Regions from separate parts of the Homo sapiens genome. Here region 1 is linked to region 2. Evidence: fine-mapped expression QTL. Tissue or cell type: thyroid. Region 2 holds a variant in brackets; the other region holds the start of a gene. All regions are shown on one strand. Distances are between the middles of the regions.

Evidence for each region. PIP is the estimated chance that this variant, and not a neighbour inherited with it, causes the effect.
Region 1: NUDCD1 starts here. The variant in region 2 is fine-mapped to the expression of NUDCD1 in thyroid (GTEx, PIP 0.96).

Annotation. Positions count from the first base shown.
Region 1 is chr8:109,330,770-109,338,769 of GRCh38, reverse strand. It overlaps NUDCD1 (NudC domain containing 1), which reads left to right and starts at 4,683. Exons shown (of 10, transcript NM_032869.4): 1 at 4,683-4,877. The coding sequence starts at 4,760. It overlaps ENY2 (ENY2 transcription and export complex 2 subunit), which reads right to left and starts at 4,423. Exons shown (of 5, transcript NM_020189.6): 1 at 4,296-4,423; 2 at 2,566-2,642. The coding sequence starts at 4,301. RefSeq lists enhancers at 4,142-4,391, 3,657-4,579, 4,762-4,811, 4,942-4,991.
Region 2 is chr8:109,349,818-109,358,353 of GRCh38, reverse strand. No RefSeq gene overlaps it. Among named protein-coding and RNA genes, the nearest start is that of PKHD1L1, 8.4 kb to the left of the region's middle. The variant G/A (reference allele first, on the strand shown) is at 3,607.

The DNA of each region.
Region 1 (8,000 bases), 19 kb after region 2:
CCACATTTTAACGATTCAGTAATTGGCATGCCCCCAGTGTTTTCTTTCTCTCGATGGCAAAAAAGTGGCAGTGTATATGCAACTAATGGCATCACAGGTGCAATAAAATATTTTCTTATCCTTTTGCCATATCCACTTTTACAAATCTTCAATCCTCAACCTAAATCATTTAACTTCTCAGGTTAAAAATGTCACATCCCAAACAAATTCTCTTTCCCTGCAAACCACTTTCACTATCCCTAGACATCCACTATGTGACATTCTCATCTTAATATTTAATTAGGTCTTTCAATCTTAATAGGGCCAAAATCCAACTTTTGATTTTCTACCAATTCATCCTGTTTGTTCTTCTTCTGAGAATGGCAATTCCATTCTTCTGGTTCCTCAGACTAGGAATCTCTGTAGTATCCTTCCACTCAGCTGCCTTGTTAACACTACACATCCAATTTATGAGCAAATCCTATTGGGTTCAATTTAAAACATATACCTAGAATTCACCTTTCTCACTATCTCCGCCATTACTACTCTAGTTCAAGCCATCATCTCTTCTCTAGAATATTACCATAGCATTCTAGGTTGTCTCCCTGCTTCTTCCCTTGTACACTTAGTTCTTCTCCTGCTGCTCAAAAACCTCCAGTGCCTTCCCAATTTACTCAGAATAAAACTCCAAGACTTTATTACAGCCTACATGATCCTTCATGATCTGCCTTCTCCCCAGCTATGCCACTGACTTAATCTCCACTCTCCCTCACCCAATTTACTCAGTCTCCCTAGCATCCCTGTGCTCCTCAAAAATGAAAGGCAAGCTCCTATCTCAGGAACTTAAAGAGTCCCTGCTCACCCTCATATCCTTCTGATTTTTTTTTTTTTGAGACGGAGTTTCACTCTTATCACCCAGGCTGGAGTGAAGTGGCGCGATCTCAGCTCACCGCAACCTCCGCCTCCCGAGTTCAAGCGATTCACCTGCCTCAGCCTCCTGAGTAGCTGGGACTACAGCCCATCACCATGCATGGCTAATTTTTGTATTTTCAGTAGAGATGGGGTTTCACCATGTTAGCCAGGATAGTCTCAATCTCCTGACCTTGTGATCTGCCAGCCTCAGCCTCCCAAAGTGCTGGGATTACAGGCGTGAGCCACTATGCACGGCCTCCTTCTGATTTCTTCTTTGTTTTTTCTATCTAAAATATTACACCTCTTTATTTTCTGCTTTATTGTTCCTCTAGTGCTCATCACCATCTGACATTATTACACAGTTTTATCTGTCTCCTCCCATTAGAATGCAAGCTCTGTGAAAACAAAGTCTCCATTTTTGTCTACTACTGTTACCTCCAACACCTTAACAGGGCATGGCATATGATAGAAACTCAGTAACTTGAAGCTGCATGAATCAAAAACAAACAACAAAAAAAAAAAACAACATACAATCCGTACTCCTTACCAGCAGTACTATCCTCTAAAGCTACCCAAGGCAGTTATCGATGCCTCCTTCCTCATTTTGAGGGTTGCTGTTTCTACATTTTATTAAAATTCTAAGGTCTCCTTCCAATTTTTGGAGTTTTCCATTTTCAACCCTATATAATCTTCTACCTCATTTTTCTGCCATCTATCTTGTCCCCTTCAAGTCCAAGCTCCACACCAACAGAGTAAGATTCCTAAAGTGTAAATGTGATCTAGTCATTTCCTTTCTTAAAACTTTAAATGACTCCCATCATCCAAAAATAAAGTCAGCAACAGATGCACCTCTTTTTCTTATTGTGTGAGATCTTACATGATCACCTGAATGCCCGGGTTGAGTTGAAAGATTCCCCCTCTTCCTTATACATATTTGCCTCTTCCTTATACATATTTGTCTTACTCACTTTATAACCCTGCCTCTGGGAGCCTTTCTTGATTCCTCAGCCCCTTCTTTGTACTTCTAAACCTGTTGATTCTGCAAATATTTACGTGGCCAATTATGAACCAAACAAAGCATTAGATGCTGGGTATACAATGTTGTTTTTGGTGTTAAAGAACTTAGATTATACTGGAGGATACAAACTAGCCAAGTAGATTGTTAGAACACAATGTTGATTAAATGCTATGATGGAACAAGGTATTTGGGACTTAAAAACATTCCTTGAAGAGACAATATATAAATTAGACCTGATAGTTGAGCTAGAATTAGCTAAAAAGGAAGAGAAGGAAGAATGTTTTAGAGAGTGGAAACAGCACTTGCTGCTCCAAGGTTGAGAGCTTGGTAAATGAAGCTGGTTCCACAACATTGTCTCCCTGTTAAAACCCAGGTAACATTATGTCTCCAGTTGTAATTCAGGTATGTACTTTTTCTTCTCCATCAAATTACTCTTTAAGAGCCATATCTTGCTCATCTTTCTACATCACCACTTCCCTCCAAGTCCTGCAATACTTAACAAACCTAAATTATTTTTTCCAGATGTTCGGAATAGAAACTTTTATAATCTCAATTGTAATTCTTTCCAGTGACATGTTTCATTTCTTGTTTAGATTCTTACAAGCTAACTATTAAAGGCGGTGAAATGTAATTTATTAACACAATCTATTACTTACCGTTCTCTTTCTCCAGTTTCTATCAACTTTTGGTTAATCGCTGCTCTCATCTGCGCATCTTTGTTCATCTTGCTAACCTGGACATCAACATGTACTTTCAGATATAGAACATTTACAAAGCATTTTCTGCTAAATCCTCTAGGCAGGCATCCTAACATGTTTACCATTCTATTAACTGAAGGGGTGATACATTTCAAGTGTGTTAATAATATCATTACTCTTTATTAAACACTTATGTGCTTGGCACTGGGCTAATGCAGTGTGGGTTTGCTTTTTTTTAAACATCACATTTAATTCCCAGAACGTATTGTTACATATTTATATTAATAAAATAATCTGTATTTTACTGATGAGGAAACTGAGGCACAGAGATAGAAAGTGGAAAGGCAAAATTTGAACTCAAGTACTTTGACCCTAGGAGCTCCAAAACTGAACATAACTGCCGATCACTTCTGCAGAGACTGCATCCAAAAATTGGGAGAAGTCATACATACTAAACATCAAAAAAAGATTAAATACTATTAGTAAAAAAATAAAATTACCAGGCCGGGCACAGTGGGTCACACCTGTAATCCCAGCACTTTGGGAGGCCCAGGCAGGTGGATCACGAGGTCAGGAGTTCAAGACCAGCCTGACCAAGATGGTGAAACCCCGTCTCTACTAAAAATAGAAAAATAAGCTGGGCTTGGTGGCAGGTGTCTGTAATCCCAGCTACTCAGGAGGCTGAGGCAGGAGAATCGCTTGAACCCAGGAGACAGAGGTTGCAGTGAGCCGACATTGCGCTGCTGCACTCCAGCCTGGGTGACAGGGCAAGACTCTGTCTCAAAAAAAAAAAAAAAAATTAATTAATCAAAAAAAATAAAATTACTAGATAAGGCTCTAAGTGTTTTGCTTTACTCTTCACTAGGATGAACCCACAATTACAACTGCTAAACCTAAGTGTGTGGATGTGTGTGTTTACACACACACTGCTGGTGGGATAAGAAGAAAACAAATCTCAAACTAATTCCTAACTTACAAAGTCCTCAATTGTCAGTAAAAACAGACAACCCAAACCAAAATGATGTTGAAAGAAGAGGAAAGTTAGGTTTTGAAAGCGTTAAAGCCACTTAAAAGTTTAAATTAAATAAAACTTGGCGTAAACTAACGTTTTCCCACCTAATCTGTCACTAACTTGAGATTACTTTTGTTGTCTTCCATCTGGCCTATTGAAAATTCAGACTGGCAATGAGTTACCAGAGTTGATTTTTTTTTTCTTTTTTGAGAGGAACAGGGAAAAGGAGAAGTTGAGTGAGAACTAGGAAATGCTTGCTTTTGTAATTGGAGGCTAACATTTTCAAAATAACTACAAGGTCTAGTCAGTACCACTCCTGGAATATTGAACTTGATCTCGTCTTGGCTCCTAAAATACGGATAGTGACCTTGGACAAGTCACTTAATTCTTAAAGGCCTCAGTTTTCTCACTGGTAAAACAAGGGCGCTAGGGTATCCCTCCCAGTTCAGACATTCTTAGGGAAAATAGAACAGGGCGGAGACAGCGGGAGAGGCGGGAGAGGAGGAGCCAGAAAACAAAGCGAGGACTGGTTTCAGGCCAACTCCGGTAGCACGCCCTGTCGGAGAGCCCTACAGGCCCGCGAGCGCGGGTCGGGGACGCTAACGAAAGACAGTACATCGAAAGGAGCCTGGGCTGGGCCCGGGTCCCGGCCCTGAGGACCACGGGCATAGCTCACCACCATCACCGCGGGCGAGGGCCGTCCCTTCCCAGCGACGAAATGACCCTTGCGCTGAGGACCGTTACCTACCACACTCTTCGGCTGCCCGGACTTAGACCCTCAGTAGCTCGGGCACCTAAGCACACAGAAAGCTAGAACACGCATTTCCGGGGCGGGGTCTCGCCACCCTGCCTATAATGTGAGAATTTAACCAGCGCGGGCCGCCTCCTGGTTGCTAGGGCCTCTGGGTAACAGAGTTCAGACCTTGCCGTCGCGCGCGCGTTAAGTACCAGGAGAACTACATAGCCCAGCATGCAACAGTCTCAACTTTTTCACGGACACTACATTTCCCAGAAGGCAGTTCGCACCGCAGTGTTTTCTGGGATGGGAACCACGCCGCTTCCCAGTCTCTGTGCGAGGCGTGAAGCGCGGACCTTTCAACAAGGGCTTTATTAATTCTCACGCTGCGGCCCTGGAAAGCGATGGAGGTGGCGGCTAATTGCTCCCTACGGGTGAAGAGACCTCTGTTGGATCCCCGCTTCGAGGGTTACAAGCTCTCTCTTGAGCCGCTGCCTTGTTACCAGCTGGAGCTTGACGCAGGTGGGAAGCGGCGGCGCCCTTCGTACTCCGTTCCTTTCCCCTTTCGGCTGCCTCCGGCCTGACCCTTCCCGCAATTTCTTTCTTTCTGACTGGCAAGCGAAGCCACCGTGGCGGCTTGCGTGGACTCACGGAGGCCGCTGCTTCTGGGGAATGATGCCCATCCCAGAACCCGGTGGGAGCCGCCTTCGCGCGCTCTTCGGTAACGGGACCCTGGGCCCCCTCCGTCAGCAGCCCAGCCTCTGAGGTCTGAGGTCTGAGGGCTGGCGTGCGGGTAGTGCCTGGGGCTCTGGCTGCTGTGTGTCCACAGCCTGGCTTCTGTTTCGGGGGACGCTGAGAACATTCCTTCCTCCTGGAGCATCGCTTGTGAACGTGTGCGTTGAGAAACCACACCTCCTTGGAGGACCCCCAGTTCCTGTTTCCTCTGACCGAGAGCCGTTTCTTAGAAGAGAAACTACATTCCAGTCATAGCATTTTTAATTACTCAGTTCCTGGCACATTAAGAACTCTGGTAGAGAACATCTCTAGAAGATAGTGAGGAAAAGTGGATTTACTCCCACACTGCTACTCCTTGCTTTATCTGTAGCTGGTAGAATATCCTTACTCTTGTTTTTACAACTTAACGGCATTTTCGTTATGATAGAGCCCAGAGATCTGCATTTTAAAATTCACACCCCTGCTGATTCTGATGCATGTTTTCAGAGATCACACTTTGAGAAATAGTGATCTACAGTTAATTATAATAACAGACATTAAAGTATAAAATAAGTTTATGCTAATTGATTTATTAAATTCAGAAATATTTACCGAGTACCTGTTTTGTGTTACGTCCTGATAATATCAAAATGAACAAGACACCTTCCGTAACAAAAGAGGACTATTAGCTAGTTAGGAAGAAAATTGTAAACAGATAATTGTAAAACAATATGGGAAGGCAGTGATAGGGATATGTACAAAATACAATGGTAGTACTTGAATATCTTTCCTAAACTAGTCTGGGGATCTGGGAAGGCGTCTTGGAGGAGTTAATATCTAAGTTGAGCTTTGAAGGGTAGGTTAAGAGTTGACTAGGATGAGAGAGGATAAGCTTGATTTTTCTTTTTATTTTTTTCCTTTTCCTCTTTGCCACCGTGTTTCTTCCAGTCACCCCATGTCAGTAGATGGTATCACCATGTTTAGTTAGTGCATTAGAAAGTGAAGCCAAAATTCAGTGTCTCAAAACAAGAAGCAGTTATTATTGCTCACAAGTCTACGGGTCAGCTGAGTGGTTCTTCTAGTCCTAGTTGGGCTCATTGATGCATCCTTGTTCAGTAATGGATCTGCTGGGAAGCTCTGCTCATTTGGCTGGACTTCCTCATATGTTTGGAGGGTGGGGGTAGGGTCTCAGACTATAAGCTTGTTTAAGATTCTTTCACATGGTCTCCTCTTGACTTTTCTCCGTGTGGTCTCTTATCCTTTAGCCGACTAGACTAGCCCAGGTTGGTACCAAGAGACACTTGTGCCAGAGTCATTTGGGGTTTATTTCTTTTAGCCACTGTCTGCTTGGTAGCAAGTCCGGTCAGCTCCACATTTTGATATCTCTAGGCCTCCACCCTAATCCAAATCAGAGTTATCTCTTACCTGAACTCTAGTAGCCTCCTGACTAGCCTTCCTGCCTTCACTTTTGGGCTTCGTCATTGCATTCTCCATAAGACGTACTTATCGGCCTTTTAAATTCTATCTTGATTTGTTGTCTGTTTCCTCCACTAGACTATGAGTTCCTTGAAAACAGTGATGTTTTTCTTTTGTTCACTACCCTATATCTAGTGCTTGGCACATAGGATGTATTCAATAAAATGAGTATATGAAGAAGAGAAGAAATTGTTGAGGTCATTCCATTCATGGGAAAGCATGAGGAAAGGGAAATAATTAGTAGGTTGTATGCTGGACATCCTTGCACTCTTATATTGCTGGAGCAAAACGTCTGGGAAAGTGAGAGGAAATAAATCAGTGAGGGCCTTGTTTGCCTTTTGGATTTCTTGGATTTCCGGTCATTCAGTGTTTCCCTGACATTTTTGTATTGAGCCATTACAATATAAAATAAAACTCAGCTGCTGTAGTTCTGCCAACTTTTCTGTTTACTAGGTGGAGATGTTTCTTAAAAACTATCATTTACTCATCTATCTTTTCATAAACAAAAGGATATTTTAACACCAAAAAAGCAGGAAGCAAAATCTCACAATAAACAATCCATTGAATACTTTAACTTTAGAAAAAATTCACAAAGTTGTCCTTGTTCCGTACTCATTTCATCAGCGTTAATCTTAGATTCTGTGTTTGGGATGTACAGCTGCAGGATATCAGGTGCCATTTGAAGATTTTTTTTTTTTTTTTTTTTTTTGAGTCTGAGTCTTGCTCTATTGCGGAGGCTGGACTGTAGTAGTGTGATCTCGTCTCATTGCAACCTCTGCCTTCCGGGTTCAGGCGATTCTCCTGCCTCAGCCTCCCGAGTAGTTGGGATTACAGGCGCCCGCCACCATGCCCAGCTAATTTTTGTTTGTTTCTTTTTGTTTTTGTTTTGTTTTTTGAGACGGAGTCTCTGTCGTTGAGGCTGGAGTGCAGTGGCGCGATCTCAGCTCACTGCAACTTCCGCCTCCCGGGTTCAAGCAGTTCTCTGCCCCAGCCTCTGGAGTAGCTGGGATTACAAGTGCCCGCCACCAAGCCCAGCTAATTTTTGTATTAGAGACGGAGTTTTACTATCTTGGCCAAGCTGGTCTTGAACTCCTGACCTCGCGATCCACCTGCCTCGGCCTCCCAAAGTGCTGGGATTAACAGGCCTGAGCCACTGCTCCGACCGATTTTTTTTTTTCTTTGAAGTTCCGGGGTACATGTGCAGGATGTGCAGGTTTGGTACATAGGTAAACGTGTGCCATGGTGGTTTGCTGCACCCGTCAACCCATCACCTAGGTATTAAGCCCAGCATGCATTAGCAATTTTTCCTAATGCTCTCCCTCCCCCTACCCCATTCTCTGACAGACCACAGTGTGTGTTGTTCCCCTCCCTGTGTCCATGTGATCTCATTATTCAGCTCCCACTTACAAGTGAGAACATGTGGTGTTTTGTGTTCTGTTCCTTCGTTGGTTTGTT
Region 2 (8,536 bases):
TATATTCAGTATTGTAGGCATTAAGAAAATGGCAGTGATTAAGAAAAATCTCTGTCCTCGTGGAGCTTACATTCTTGGTGGAGATAGACAATAAATACAAAAATTAGTGAAATACATAGCATGTTCAAAACTAATAAATGCTAGACGGAAAATACTAAAGCAAGGAAGACAACAAACAATGTAACCTTGTTGCTTAATGCCTGGAAGGAGATGAAAGGTTTCTAATTGCTTAAGGGTGCAAATATGGGATGGTTCAAATAAAAATCATTAACTCTCCACTGGCAAATTTTCATGGAGTTACATAGCCCAGGTAATGTCAAACATATTTGACTGTTGAGACAATTGCTCAAGTGTGTTAAAGTCATTCATTATTGCTAACATGTTGTGCCATAACAAAGGTTTTACAAAGTTTGGTACCTTCTGTGAGTGTCAATGTTTCTTTCATTTACTTATTTATTTCCTTTAAATTCCTTTTTTGTACCTGGTGTGTTGTAAAATGGGTATTTGTGATTACTCCTTCATGAATATAGTGTGTATTTTAAAAATAACTGTGTGAAAACTGTGAATATCAGAAATGAGAATGATTATTTGTAGTAAGGCATAGACACAAAACGCCATGAAATTCCACGCTCAAAACTATTCACACTCCTAGAAGGGCATGGCTTCTGAACTCCTGCTGAAACCTTGTGTCTACCTGAGGTTTAAAGTAATAAAAAGTGCTAAAAAATGAACAAATTGAAAAAAAACTTGTCTTATTTCACTTGTCTTACAAATTTCTTGAATATCGTATAATTTACTTAATTGACAGCCAAATTACTTGTTTCTATGACATTTATCAAATTGTTAAAAGCCTTAAGCCGTGTAATATAGAGTTTCAAAATATCACTTGAATCAAATGTTTTATTTTATCATTATTTCTTATATTTTTTACAGAACCTATTTCAGTTTATATTGAAGAGAAGGATGATGATGAAGACTGGATTATAGCTTCGCTTGCATAAATGTGGTGGGACACCAAGGCCACCGTGTCTTTATTTATAAAATGTCTTGCCAATAGTAGATTTTTGTTATGCAAGAAAAATCTCAAGGTGTAAAAGCTAGGACACTTTGAAAACATGAATTCTCCATTTAGCAAAATTCTTTTTTTTTTTTTTTTGAGACGGAGTCTTGCTCTTTCGCCCAGGCTGGAGTGCAGTGGCGTGATCTCGGCTCACTGCAAGCTCCGCCTCCCGGGTTCACGCCATTCTCCTGCCTCAGCCTCCCGAGTAGCTGGGACTACAGGCGCCTGCCACCAAGCCCGGCTAATTTTTTCTTTTTTTCTTTTCTTTTCTTTTTTGTATTTTTAGTAGAGACGGGGTTTCACCATGTTAGCCAGGATGGTCTCCATCTCCTGACCTCGTGATCCGCCCGCCTTGGCCTCCCAAAGTGCTGGGATTACAAGCTTGAGCCACCGCGCCCGGCCAGCAAAATTCTTTTACTTAAGATCCTATAAAGTTGGAGAGACTTCAGTTCAGCCATGTGCACTGGAGATGCTCAAGCTGGTTTTTGCACTGGAATAGAGGAGAAATCTAGAAGAGGTGCTTTTGTCCAGTATGTTCATACATTGTAGAATTATTGAAATATCTTAACATTAAAATGAGCCATCAAAGGATTGATGTTCTCACCATTGCCCTTCAGTATTGCACCTGGCAAAATTCTGATTTTGTGAGTCTCTTTTGGAAACTAACCAGGCTGGTGACATTTTGGGAAAGGTAAAAAATTGTTTTATTGTTCTGGTTTGTTTTATATTCTTTTTCCAAGTAAAACATTGATTGGAAAAATTAAAGCATTATACACTCTTTACTTAATTGGTTCCAACAATGCTTTTCAATGTATCTGGTATTGTTACCTTAGTGACAATGAAATCACCTCATGCTGTCATTACTTGTTGTTTTTTACACAGACATACAATAGGAATAAAGGCTGTTTTTACAATCCTGAGAGAAGCTTTGTCACCAATCATAGAAGTCATCGACATTATTTAAAGTACCCCCTGAATTGTCGCATGTTTTAAAAATGATCAAGAAATAGGGCAACCAAAATATAAAGTACATTTTATCAAATAAAAGTTCACTGATTTCCAAGGGAGCAGGAGTTATTTATTTATAACTTGTTTGTGTGTGTGTGTGTGTGATGAGAACACTTGAAATCTTCTTTCTTATCAATTTCCAAGCACACAATATGTTGTTTTGAACTGTAGTCACCATGTTGTACAATAGATCCCTTGAAACTATTCCTCTGGTCTAACTGAAATGTTGTATCGATTGACCAACATCTCCCAAAGCCCCTCACCTCCAACTTTTGGTAACCAACATTCAACTCTCTGTTTCTATGAGTTCGACCTTTTTGCATTCCACATATAAGTGAGATTATGCAGTATTTGTCTTTCTGTGCCTGGCTTATTTCACTTAACATAATGTCCTCCAGGTTCATCCCTGTTGTTGCAAATCACAGTTTTTTTACTATTTTTAATGGCTGAATAGTATTCCCTTGTGTATACATACCATATTTTCTTCATTCATTTGCTGATATATACTTACATTAATTCCATATCTTGGCTATTGTGAATAATTCTGAAATGCACATGGGAGTTCAGATGTATCTTACAAATCCTTATTTCAATTCCTTTGAATGCATACCCAGAAGTAGGATAGCTAGATCATATGATAGTTCCATTTTTAATTTTTTGAGGAACTTCCATACCATTTTCCTTAATGGCTGTACTGAATTACATTGCTACCAACAGTGCACCAGGATTCCTTTTACTCCAGATTCTTGTTAACAGTTGTTATCTTTTGTCTTTTTTATTATAGCTATTCTCACAAGTGTGAGGTAATATGTCATTGTGGTTTTATTTGCATTTCCCTGATGATTAGTGATGTTTTTACTGAAGCTCAGACTATGAATTCTTGACTCTCAAGTAAATAGAAATGAACACCAGACCAAACAGAATTTTTTCTTAGGCAAGGGTTTTTTTTTTTTTTTTTTTTTTTTTTTTTTGAGACGGAGTCTTGCTCTGTCTAGGCAAGGTTTTAATAGGCTTCCAGGTCACACAAAGCAAGCAGAAATGTACAGAAAATGGATCTCAGTGCCGGCTCCCCAAAGGGCTTGGCTCTTGTCATTTTAAGGGAGCTAAGGCGAGAAAAGGAGCTATGTGTAGGCATATAGAGGAAGGAAACTTTTAGCACCTGCGCAGTTTGATAACATATTTCTTCATGTGTCGTATGTGTCATTAGCATGCTAAATCCCCACCCCTGGATGTGATTTGCAGTATTACAATGAGGGAAACTTCATGCAAGATCAGTGCTGGAATTCATTCATCTTGTCTTCGGCTGGCTGGATCTGGTCTGTTTATTGTTGGGAATGCCAGAGTCTCACTTCAGTAACCTTGGAAGACATCACTCAAAGATATAAATGGTCAGTTTCTTCTTTTTATGGTTAGGGATTCAGCCAGGTCAGCTAAGTTAGGAAGAGGCAGCTTTCTACTCCCTGACTTTGGTCAGCTTGTTAAGGGAGGCAAGAAGGTATGGCAGGGAAATGCCCAGACATTTGAGGCCTATGGAGTGG[G/A]GGTGAGGAGATCTGGGTTACTATGTCACTTATCTGCCAGGACCGAGTTTCTTTCCTATACTGGCTTAATGTTGAACACCTTGCTGTATACCTGTTGGCCATTTGTATGTCTTCTTTGGGGAAATGTCCATTTAAGTCCTTGGTTATTTTTAATCTGGTTGTTTGTTTTCTTACTGTTGAGTTATAAGAGTTTCATATATATTTTGGATATTAACCCCTTATCAGATGTACAGTTTGCAAATATATTCTTCAATTTAATAGATAGTCTCTTCACTCTGTCGATGTTTCCTTTGCTGTGAAGAAGCTTTTTAGTTTGATGTTAGCCCATTTGTCTTTTTTTTTCCTGTTGCCTGTGCTTTTAGAATTATATCCAAAACGAAGTATTGCCCACACCAATGTCATCAAGCTTTTCCCCAATATTTTTTTTCTAGTGGTTTTATGGTGTCAAGTCTTACATTTAAATCTTTATTTTAGTCGATTTTTGTTTATGGTATGAGATGAGGGCCTAATTGCATTCTCCTGCATGTAGATATTCAGTTTTCCCAGCCCTATTTTTGGAAGGCACTGTCCTTTCTCATCATTTGTTCTTGGCATTTTTCTTGAAAATCATTTGACCATAAATATATGAATTTATTTTGGGAGTGAGGGGTATGATTTAAGAGCTTGTTTAAGTTAAGGGCAACTACTTAATGTTTCTTAAAGAAAAGAAATTCTGCATTCAGAATACTTCGAAAAAAACTATTGATGCATGGGTTGGCTTACCTGGCAATTATTTTTAGCCACATGGATGGGCTAAAATTTTCAAGTTCATTAGGCTTTCTACTTTAAATAATATTATAATCTTTCCAGAATATGTAGCTGATTTGGAATATCAAAATAGAAACTGACATCTTTGCCAAACTTTGAAATGTTTTACCCTTAGCTAACTATCAATTTCTTTGAAAGAGATATCTATAAATATCTGGAAACTGTTTAGTACCCTTTTGGAAGTTACTTCTATCTTAATTGTATTAAAGTTGAACTATGAATCCAGAATCCTTTCCTTTCTGATATAAACTGTAATTGAAAGCATTGTCCTAGTCTATAATCTTTGATCTTAGGCTCAAAAACATTATAGGTAGGATATAACTCAAAAAACCTTTGAGGATTCTGATATCTTTTGAGGCAAGCTTATCTTGGCCTTGTAAAATAAGCTTAAAAAACTTTAATTTAATGCTATGATCTAAATGTTTGTATCCTCCCAAAATTTGTGTATTGAAAGTGATGGTATACCAAAGTTATGCTGTTAGGAGGTGGGGGCTCTTGAAAGGTGATTGGGTCATGGAAAGCCCACATGAATGGGATTAGTGTCCTTATGAAATAGGCCCAAAGGACCTCATTCACGCCTTCCACCATGTGAGGATGCAGTGAAAAGATTCTTTCTATGAACCAGAAGATGGCATTCATCAGACGCTAAATCGCTGGCACCTTGATCACCAATTTCCCAACCTTCAGAACTATAAGAAACAACTTCCTGTTTGTAAGTAATACATTTCTGTTGTTTATAAACCACCCAGTCTATGCTATTTTGTTATAGCAGTCCAAATGAAGTAAGATATCCTTTTTGCTACAAACATACACACACACACACACACACACACACACAATCTTAACTAATCAAGAGTTTCAATACTTACAAACATTAAAACAAAAATTTGAAATTGACGACATATCCTGCATAACAGTAACAAGCATGTTGTCCTGTCAATCACAACCCTACAGTGTAATGTTCTTATCCAAGTTAAGAAACAACTTTACCCTGATTTTTTTAAAATAAGGTACAATTTTAAAGTTACTCGTATTTAAAATATATTGTCTTATTTTTGTGTTAATAAAGATGAATATCATGCATTTATTTTGAAATATTTGATAACTATAATTTTAATATAATTTGTTTCCTGTATAATTCTACAAATTTTATTATGTGTATTTAAACATAATATTCTGAGAAAGAGTTCATAGTCTTCACTTGACTTCCAAAGGGACTCAGAAAAGGTTAGGAACAACTGATTTAGGCAGAGGGTAAAGATACAAAAGAAAGTGGGTCATAATATTAGGATTTGGAAAACTCCAACAGTTAGAGGTCTAGCAGAAGACAGGTTAGCAAATAAGACTGACAGACAGCAGCCGTGGGTGAGAGGGGAAGCAGAACACTATTGCAGTACAGAAATTAAGAGAAGAACGCATCTGAAGATGTAGAATCATCACTTGTTATCAATGCTTTTGGGAGGTTGAAGAGGGTGATAATCTCTCTTGACCTAGACATAGATTCCATGGAATGGTGATTTCCATGAGGCCAAATTGAGGGAGTTGAGTGGGAGGTGAAGGAGTAGAGACAATCCAATTAAAAACTTTTGCTTATAATGGGAGCAGAGGAATGGGGCTGTTCCTAGAGGGAGATACGTGATCAAGACATGGTTTTTATAAAAGAATGTAGTTACCAGGCCAAGTGACTATGCTGCTATGGCTGATGTAGCAGAGGGTTAAAATTCTAATGGAAGAGAGGGAGGGACAACTGTAAGAGAGAGATCGTTGAGAAGAAGAGAGGTGCTGGAATCCAGGGGACAAGTGGAGGCAAGGTTAAATGTATGGGTCCAGATTCAGGAAGACTGGTAAATTTGGTGATGGGATCATGCCAGGTTCTTGTCAGATTGCTGCTGTTGCCTTGATAAGCATGAGGCAGTGTTATTAGTGCTGGAGAGAAGTGGGAAACAGGCATTTTGGTGAGTAGGAAAGTGTATACCCTAGGAAAATGTACTGGAGTTCTTGGGCAGGAAAAAAGTGTTCATTTGAGGTTGTGACCATTATTTCTTTTCAAACCATGTTCATGGCTTAGACTACCTAATTCTGTTAAACTGTCCATACTACTCAAAGGAATATACATATTCCATGCAATCCCATTAAAATTTCAATAATATTTTTCACAGAAACAGAAAAAGCAAGCCTTAAATTCAAAAGATACCACAGAAGACCTGAAAAGCCAAAGCAATCTTGAACAAAAAGAACAAAGCAGAAGTCATCACATTTCCTGGTTTCAAATAATTTTATAAAGCTATAACAAATACAGTAATCAAAAAAGCATCATACTTTGGGAGGCTGAGGTGGAAGGATCACTTGAGCCCAGGAGTTTGAGATCAGCCTGAGCAACATATGGAGACCTGAGACCACAACTCCACAAAAAAAGTTTTTTTTGTAAATTAGCCAGGTGTAGTGCCACATGCTACTTGCAGTCCCAGCTACTTGTGAGGCTGAGGTGGGAGGATCACTTGAGCCTGAGATGTTGAGACTACAGTAAACCATGATCATGCCACTGCACTCCAGCCTGGGTGGCAGAAGGAGATCCTGTCTCAAAAAAAAAAAAAAAAAAAAAGAAAGAAAGAAAGAAAAAAAGTGTCATGCTGGCATAAAAAGACGTGAGCCAATTGAACAGAATAGAGAGCCCAAAATAAACCCATGCATGTACAGTCAACTAATTTTTGAAAAAAATGCCAAGAATATAAAATGGGAAATAACAGTCTTTTCAATAAATTATGCTAGGCAAACTAGATGTGCACATGAAAAAAGAAAAAACTGTTTAATCCATATATCTTAAGTACCAGGAAATCAACTCAAAAGTTGATTAAACACTCAAAGACAAGAAACCGTAAAACTAGAAGAAAACAGGGAAAAGGCTCCTTGGTCTTGGCACTGATGTTTTGGATATGATGCCAAAATACAGGCAAAAATAAACAAGCGAGATTACATCAAATTTAAAAGCTTTCTTGCAGCAAAGAAAGCAATCCCGAGTGTAATGGCAATCTATAAAATGAAAGAATGTGTTTTCAAACCATATATTTGATAAGAGGTTAATATCCACAATATCAGGAACTCCTACAACTCAATAGCAAAAAACAAACAACAATAAACCAACCCAATTAAAAAAACAGACAAAGGACCAATAAATATTTCTCTAAAGAAGAAGACATAGCAGTGGCTAAAAGCTGTATGATGAGGTGCTAAACATCACCATCAGGGATATGCAAATCAAAATCACCATTTCACCCCACAACTTTTAGAATGACTATTATCAAACAGTCAAAAGATAAGTGTTGGCGAGAATGTGGAGAAAAGGGAACCCTGATACATTGTTGGTTTGTATGTAAATTAGTACAGCCATGATGAAAAACTGTATGAAGATTTTTTTCAAAATGTTAAAAAATAGAACTATGATATAATCCAGCAATTCCACTTCTGGGTATATATCCAAAGGAATTGAAATCAGAATTTTTTTTTTGAGACAAGATCTCATCTGTCCCCATGCTTGAGTGTAGTGGTGCAATCATGGCTCACTGCAGCCTTGACCTCATGAGCTCAAGCAATCCTCCCACCTCAGCCTCCCAAGTAGTTGGGACTATACGCGTGTGCCACCATGCCCAGCTAGTTTTTGAATATCTTGTAGAGATGGGATTTTGTCATATTGCCTAGGCTGGTCTGGAACTCCTGGGCTCATGCGTTCTGCCCACCTTGGCCTCCCAAAGTGCTAGGATTACAGGCATGAGCCACTGCACCCAACCAGGATCTTCAATATGTGTCTGCACCTCCTGTCGATTAAAGCATCATTCACTGTAACCAAGATATGGAATTACCCTAAGTGTCCTTCGATGGATAATGAATAAAGAAAATTTAATACACACATCCACATTAATCTACCCACTCTCCTCCACACTAGAATTATTCAGCCTGAGAAACGAGGGAAATCATGCCATTTGTGAAAACATGAATGGACCTAGAAGATATAATGTTTAAGTGAAAAAGCCAAACACAGAAAGATAAATACTATATGATCTCACCTATATGTGGAATCTAAAATAGTCAAACTGATAGAAGCAGAGAGTAGAATGATTGTCAGGGG